Homo sapiens: one gene and its partner. The protein of the gene in region 2 purifies or fractionates together with the protein of the main gene of each other region. This does not show direct contact. Each region holds a gene or a part of one and is shown on either strand. Other genes may lie near its edges.

The links. The genes of interacting proteins can lie anywhere in the genome.
Region 1: the proteins of RAD51AP1 (region 2) and WDR20 purify together in Homo sapiens (affinity purification with mass spectrometry; one large-scale study listed by BioGRID and IntAct). This does not show direct contact.

What each region holds. Positions count from the first base shown.
Region 1 is NC_000014.9:102,146,397-102,149,896, reverse strand, and holds part of WDR20 (WD repeat-containing protein 20), read right to left. Parts: intron 1-3,500. UniProt on the Homo sapiens protein: Regulator of deubiquitinating complexes. Activates deubiquitinating activity of complexes containing USP12. Anchors at the base of the ubiquitin-contacting loop of USP12 and remotely modulates the catalytic center of the enzyme.
Region 2 is NC_000012.12:4,548,890-4,552,389, reverse strand, and holds part of RAD51AP1 (RAD51-associated protein 1), read right to left. Parts: intron 1-3,500. UniProt on the Homo sapiens protein: Structure-specific DNA-binding protein involved in DNA repair by promoting RAD51-mediated homologous recombination.

The DNA.
Region 1 (3,500 bases), on a different chromosome or scaffold from region 2:
TACAGTGAAACCCCATCTCTACTAAAAAATACAAAAATTAGCCGGGCGTGGTGGCATGTGCCTGCAGTCCCAGCCACTCTGGAGTCTGAGGCAGAGAACTGCTTGAACCCAGGAGGCAGAGGTTGCAGTGTGCTGAGATCGAGCCACTGCACTCCAGCCTGGGCGACAGAGTGAGACTCCGTCTCAAATAAATAAATAAATAAAATAGAATTGATGACACAAAATATTTCTCAATTTACAAATTACCAACTGGCAGAGAAGCTGAAAAGTTGAGAAAAATGCTAAAAGAGCAGTGGACATCTTACGCTCAATCAGAAATAAAAATAAAGCATTTCTGAAATTAGAAATACAAGGCAACAAATTTAAAAATTTATAAAAAATATGATCTGCACACAACATTTTAGGGCAAATTATCTATTTGAAACCCAATGCAATATTCTTCTACTAGGCAGAGAAATACTTTTCCACTTCACCTTTACTCCTTAATTCCACTTGATACTTACATTGCTATGCCACATGCAGAGCACATATCCTCTACTTTGTATTATAATGATAAATACAAAATCAGCCGGGAACAATGGCTCACATCTGTAATCCCAGCACTTTGGGAGCACAAGGCAAAAGCATCACTTGAGCCCAGGAGTTCAAGGTCAGACTAGGCAACACAGCAAGACCCAGTCTCTACAAAAGAAAAAAATGTATTTATGTATGTATTTTTTGTTTGTTTGTTTTGTTTTGAGAGAGTCTCACTCTGTCGCCCAGGCTGGAGTGCAGTGGCACGATCTCAGCTCACTGCAAGCGCCACCTCCCGGGTTCAAGTATTCTCCTGCCTCAGCCTTCCGAGTAGCTGCGACTACAGGCACCCGCCACCACACCCAGCTAAATTTTTTTGTATTTTTAGTAGAGAGGGGGTGTCGCTGTGTTAGCCAGGACGGTCTCAAACTCCTGACCTCGTGATCCGCCCGCCTCGGCCTCCCAAAGTGCAGGGATTACAAGCGTGAGCCACCGCGCCTGGCCTACAAAAAATTTTTTAAAAATTATCCAGGCACAGTGGCACATGCCTGTAGTCCCAATTACTCAGGAGGCTGAGGCGGGAGGATCACTTGAGCCCAGGAGGTTGAAGCTGCAGTGAGCTATGATTGTGCCACTGCCCTCCAGCCTAGGTGACACAGTGAGACCCTGTTCCAAACACACACACACACACACACACACACACACACACACACAAAGCCAAACTCTTTAAAGACAGGAGTGTTAAATACACTTCACATCCGCCACAATAGACAGCAGTGCCTTGTATATACCAGTCATCAATAAATGCTTGATGAATGAGGATTATGATTTTTTTTTTTTTTTGAGACAGAGTCTCAGCTCTGTCACCCAGGCTGGAGTCCAGTGGCACAATTTCCGCTCACTGCAGCCTCAACCTCCCAGGCTCCAGCAATTCTCCCACCTAAGCCACCTGAATAGCTGGGGCCACAGGCGTGCACCACCACACCTGGCTAATTTTTTCTTGTAGAGATGAGCTCTCACTATGTTGCCCTGGCTGGTCTCAAACTCCTGGGGCTCAACCAATCCTCCTGCCTCGGTCTCCTAAAATACTGGGATTAAGGGCAAGAGCCAAGGTAACTTGTCACTGATGCTGTCAATTTCAAGTGTCCTGAAAATTAAAACTGAAGTCTACCAATTAGAAATGTCTACCAATTAAGGTTACTTCTATTTTTAAGGTCTTCTCCTGAATAACCAAACAAGATCACATTTCATATTACTGCACAAACTAACCTCACTGAGAAACAAACAGAATTATTCTCTGAGATACTAAATTCCAGACGACAAAAATCTTCCTATTTTTAAAACAAGGTTCTTGGCCAGGCGTAGTAGCCCACGCCTGTAATCCCAGCACTTTGGGAGGCCCAGGCAGGTGGATCACCTGAGGTCAGGAGTTCAAGGCCAGCCTGGCCAACATGGGGAAACCCCGTCTCTACTAAAAAGACAAAAATTAGCTGGGTGTGGTGGCAGGTGCCTGTAATCCCAGTTACTCGGGAGGCTGAGGCCTGCGAATGGCTTGAACCCGGGAGGCAGAGGTTGCAGTGAACCAAGATCATGCCATTGCACTCCAGCCTGGGGAATAGAGTGAGACTCTGTCTCCAAAACTAAAACTAAAACTAAAATAAAATAAAACAAGGTTCTTTAGCCATACAGCCAAACCACTCAGTGACAAAATCCACCATGTTTTGATGCTTGCTCAAGCTCAAGTTTGCCATCAAAGCACTTTACCCTTAAGTCACTATATTAAGTCAATGATAATAAATATCGTATAAGTGACACATTTCTTGAGGGCAGAGACTCTGACTACACCCAGCATCTAAAACAGTACCTCATATCTGGTAGGCATACTCCATGAATATTTGCTGAAAGAATGGCATTCATGACTATCTCACGGACTTCCATGACATATTCCAGGTGCTTCTCACCATTGCTCATATCTACCCATGAAGTCCTCCTTTTTTGGGAAGGTCTCGCTTTGTTGCCCAGGCTGGAGTGCACTGGCACGATCTTGGCTCACTGCAACCTCCACCTCCTGGGTTCAAGTGATTCTCCTGCCTCCTGAGTAGCTGGGATTACAGGCATGCGCCACCATACTTGGCTAATTTTTGTATTTTTAGTAGAGATGTGGTTTCCCCGTGTTGGCCAGGCTGGTCTTGAACTCCTAACCCCAGATGATCCACCCGCCTCAGCCTCCCAAAGTGCTGGGATTACAAGCCACCCATGCAATCTTTCAATATCTCATGACCACCCTCCTCTTCAAAGCCAAGAGAACCCAGGTATAGTATGAAAGTATCTCCTGCTTTAAATGATACATTAAGATGCTTTCCCCTCAGTATGCAAAATTCTAAAGTCAAATAAATCATCAATATTTCAGAAGTCAGCAAATAGCCCTTAATGGAAAAGAAACACAAGTTTCCAGTCATTCAGCAACCCTCTGTGACCTACTAAATTAAGTACAAGATTTCTCAAAGTAAATCTAATACAAAAAGTTACAGACTTCTAAACCTCTTTCTAAATTATAAAAGGGGAGCCAGGGAGGTGTGAAAAATTACAAAAGGGGAGAATGGTGTGAACATGACCCTCTCTGAAGCAGTAAAATATCTAAAACAAGTCTGTGGGGGGGAAATTTTTTTTAAAGGCATCTAGTTCACCCTCCCACACAAAGCAGGAATTCCTCCAATGTCACCAACAGGTGGTCCTGCAGTTTTTGACAAAGAGACAGAACATTTCCCATATGAGCATTCCCATAACAGAACGCTCATTCTCTCTCAAGTCAACCCATTACCTTCTTCTTTAATCAGGATCTAAAAATACTTTAGCTTTTATCAACTGACTCTTCTTCTGGCCCCAACTTCATCTCAGCATCATGAACATAAAGCTCTTCTAGCCGGGCATGGTGATTCACACCTGTAATCCCAGCACTTTGAGAGGCCGAGACGGGTGGATCACAA
Region 2 (3,500 bases):
TCAAAAATGCTTTTCTGCACTTCGTGGCAAAATATAAGCCAGTGATCTAATTTTGAAAGTGCTACAGCTGCTCTAGAAAAAAGCATTTCCTAACCTGATAGTTAAGCAATGATCTTTCTATTTTTTGAGGGGGTTAGGATCAGAAAACCATGCCTTGTAGATAAACTCTGAAAACTAAGTGTAAATAGGGTTAGTCCTATATTAATATAAAACTTTTTTACATTTTTAATATTATGGACATGCTTATTGCAGAAAATGCTTAAATCAAAAAATGTACAAATAAAATGAAAAATAAACAGTACATGCTGATTGTAGAAAATACAGACCATACAAAACTTTATTAAAGAAAATCTACTCTGTAATCTCACCACTCAGAGATAACCACTATTGTCCCCACATACTAATATCTACCTATCTATAAGAAATATTATATGTAAAATACAATCATATAAAATTTTCAAACCTATACCACAGTAGACAGTAATAAACCACCACTCAGATTCAACAATTATCAACATTTTGCTCCATTTGTTTCATCTATCTCGCTCTTCTTCTTCTATTCCCTTTTGTAGTATATTAAAATAAAATCAAGGCATCACATCATTACATTCCTACATACTTCAGAATGTATCTCTAAAAAACATAAGCATTTTCTCATACAACAATGCCATTATTACATCTAGCAATACCAACACTAGTTTCTTGGTATCATCTTCTATTCAGTCTATATTAATCTCTTTTAATATAGAGCAGTATCTTCTCCCTGTCCTCCCTTGTGTCTGACTTGCTGAAGCAGTTGAGTCAATTGTCCTGTAGAATGTCCTAAATTCTGGATTTGTCTGTTTTCTAGCTCATGGTGTCATTTAACTTAATCTTGCTTTTTTTTTTTTTTTTTGAGATGGAGCCTCACTCTGTCGCCCAGGCTGGAGTGCAGTGGCACAATCCTGGCTCACTGCAACCTCTGTCTCCCAGGTTCAAGCAATTCTCCTGCTTCAGCCTCCCAAGTAGCTGGGATTACAGGCACACAACACCACGCCCAGCTAATTTTTGTGTTTTAGTAGAGAAGGGGTTTCACCATGTTGGCCAGGCTGGTCTCGAACTCCTGACTTCAACTGATCCACCCACCTCAGCCTCCCAAAGTGCTGGGATTACAGGTGTGAGCCACTGTGCCCGGCCATATTCTTGCATTTTATGTGAGCTGGAATTCTGCTCTCAAGGCTTGAGTGGATTCAGGCTCGCTTTTTTTGGTGGTGGGGGGAGGAGGGACGGCAAGAATATACTTCATAAGTATATTCTTTGTACTTCATATTACATCACATCAGAAATCATATAATGTGTGGTTGTCCCTCTCTTAGGTGGTTCAGGTGATGCCAGCCTGAATTCAACATTGTAAAGATCCTTATCAACCTTCCATTGATGACCTTTACCTAAATCAACAATGTCATTTATGGGCTGGGCACAGTGGTTCACCTCTGTAATCCCAACACTTTGGTAGGCCAAAGCAGGTGGATCACATGAGGTCAGGAGTTCAAGACCACCCTGGCCAACATGCTGAAACTCCATCTCTACTAAAAATACAGAAATTAGTTAGGCATGGTGGCGCATGCCTGTAGTCCCAGCTACTTGGGAGGCTGAGACACAAGAATTGCTTGAACCTGTGAGGCGGAGGCCATGGTCAGCCAAGATCGTGCCACTACACTCCCGCCTGGGCGACAGAGCGAGATTCCATCTCAAAAAACAAAACGAAACAAAAACAAAAAACAATGTCATTATGATCTTCAAATTGCAATGTCCTTATTCTATCATTGTTCCCACACACAATGTTAAAGATAATCAACTCACATGTTCACATAACGGTTCCCGTGCTATAGAGAATCAGCCCAGAAAGGCCAGCAGGTCCCATGAGGGCTGTTAGAAATGCAGCCTGCAAATTCAAGCAATCCTAAGAAGCTCTCCGCTCAAAGAAGGCAAGGGGTAGAGGAACTTTCTCCAAACTTTCCAAATATATTATCTACAACAAAACTTTCTGTGTATCCAATAGTTCTGATACTGCATGTGTTCAGTAACTTAGAAGTCTGAAGGATTCTCTTCTTGGCTCAAGAGGATAAACAGTAGGCCCTGGCAACATTTCTGTGTAACAAGCTTGTTCAGAAATGGGGTCCAACTAATCTTCGTCAGTCAATTGAGAAAGCAATTTAAATAAAATTAGAGATGGGGAGTTGGAATTCCCAAAATTCCAAGTCATTCGCATCCCATAGAGGAAAATCTGGAAGGCCCAAACACTTCAGTTACGGATTTTGGGAACTGTTAGAGAAAAGACTTATCTTCTCTGCAATTTTCTCTTTTCTTTCCCTAATGAAGGTCACACATGGTCCTTTCTATTCTCATCCAGGACAAGCGAATGCAGGGGGAAAACTGAAATGTCACTTTGGGGCTGCTTCCACTTCTTGGCTATTATGAATAATGCTGCTATGAACACGGGTATGCAAATGTCTCCCTGAGATCCTGCTTTCAATCGTTTTGGATACATACTCAGAAGTGGATTGCTAGATCATATAGTATAGGCTGAGTATCCCTTATCTGAGGTGCTTGGGACCAGACATGTTTCAGGGTTCAGATTTTCTTTGGGTTTTGGAACATCTGCATTATACCAGTTGGGCATTCCAATTCCAGAAATCCAAAATGCTCAAATGAGTATTTCCTTTAAGCATCACATTGGCGCTCAAAGAGTGTCTTTGCATTTTCCTGTCTCCCAGGCCCTCCCAAAGTAAAACAAATGCAAAACAGTCTTTTTTCATGTATTTCCGTTGTTCCAGAAGGACAGGAGCTGTTTGTTTTTTTCACTATTGTATCCCTAGTATCTAGAATATAATGCACATAAAAAGCATTCAAATATTAGTCGAATAAGTGACGATGAGCAAATCTGTTATTGTTTGTTGATAGTATATCAAAATCTAAAATATGGTATCTTGATTTGGCCTACATTTATGAATTTATGAATTTAAATTTTTAATTAATATGTTATAATGTTCTGTCAAGGTCACTACACTTTCCATTTGCCCAATTTCTAAATGAGTCTAAAAACCATCATAATAAAATATAGATTTCATATCACTTCTGCCTCAGAATAATTCATGGATTTCTACTACCTCCAGGAAAAAAAAGCCTACACTTCTTCCAGTGGGTCTGAGACCCTCCCTGATTAGTACCAGCCTCCCTCTCGAGCCTCTTCCATGTTCATCCCAGCAAGCCTCAGTTAGAGACAAATAGAGCATTTGTCTATTCCACAGGTAATGCCTTTCTGTTAGTCAGAAATGCTACTTTACACCTTTAGTTTGTTGAAACGCTACTCATTTTTCAAGGCATAGCTTAAAGGTTAACTCGTAGAAAAAACTTTTTCCCCAAATGCTATCACTGAATTGAACTGTTCTGTGTGTCCCTGAAGTTTGCACACCCCAAAGGTTTAACACAGTGCTTTGCACAATTAATAGCTTCCAAGA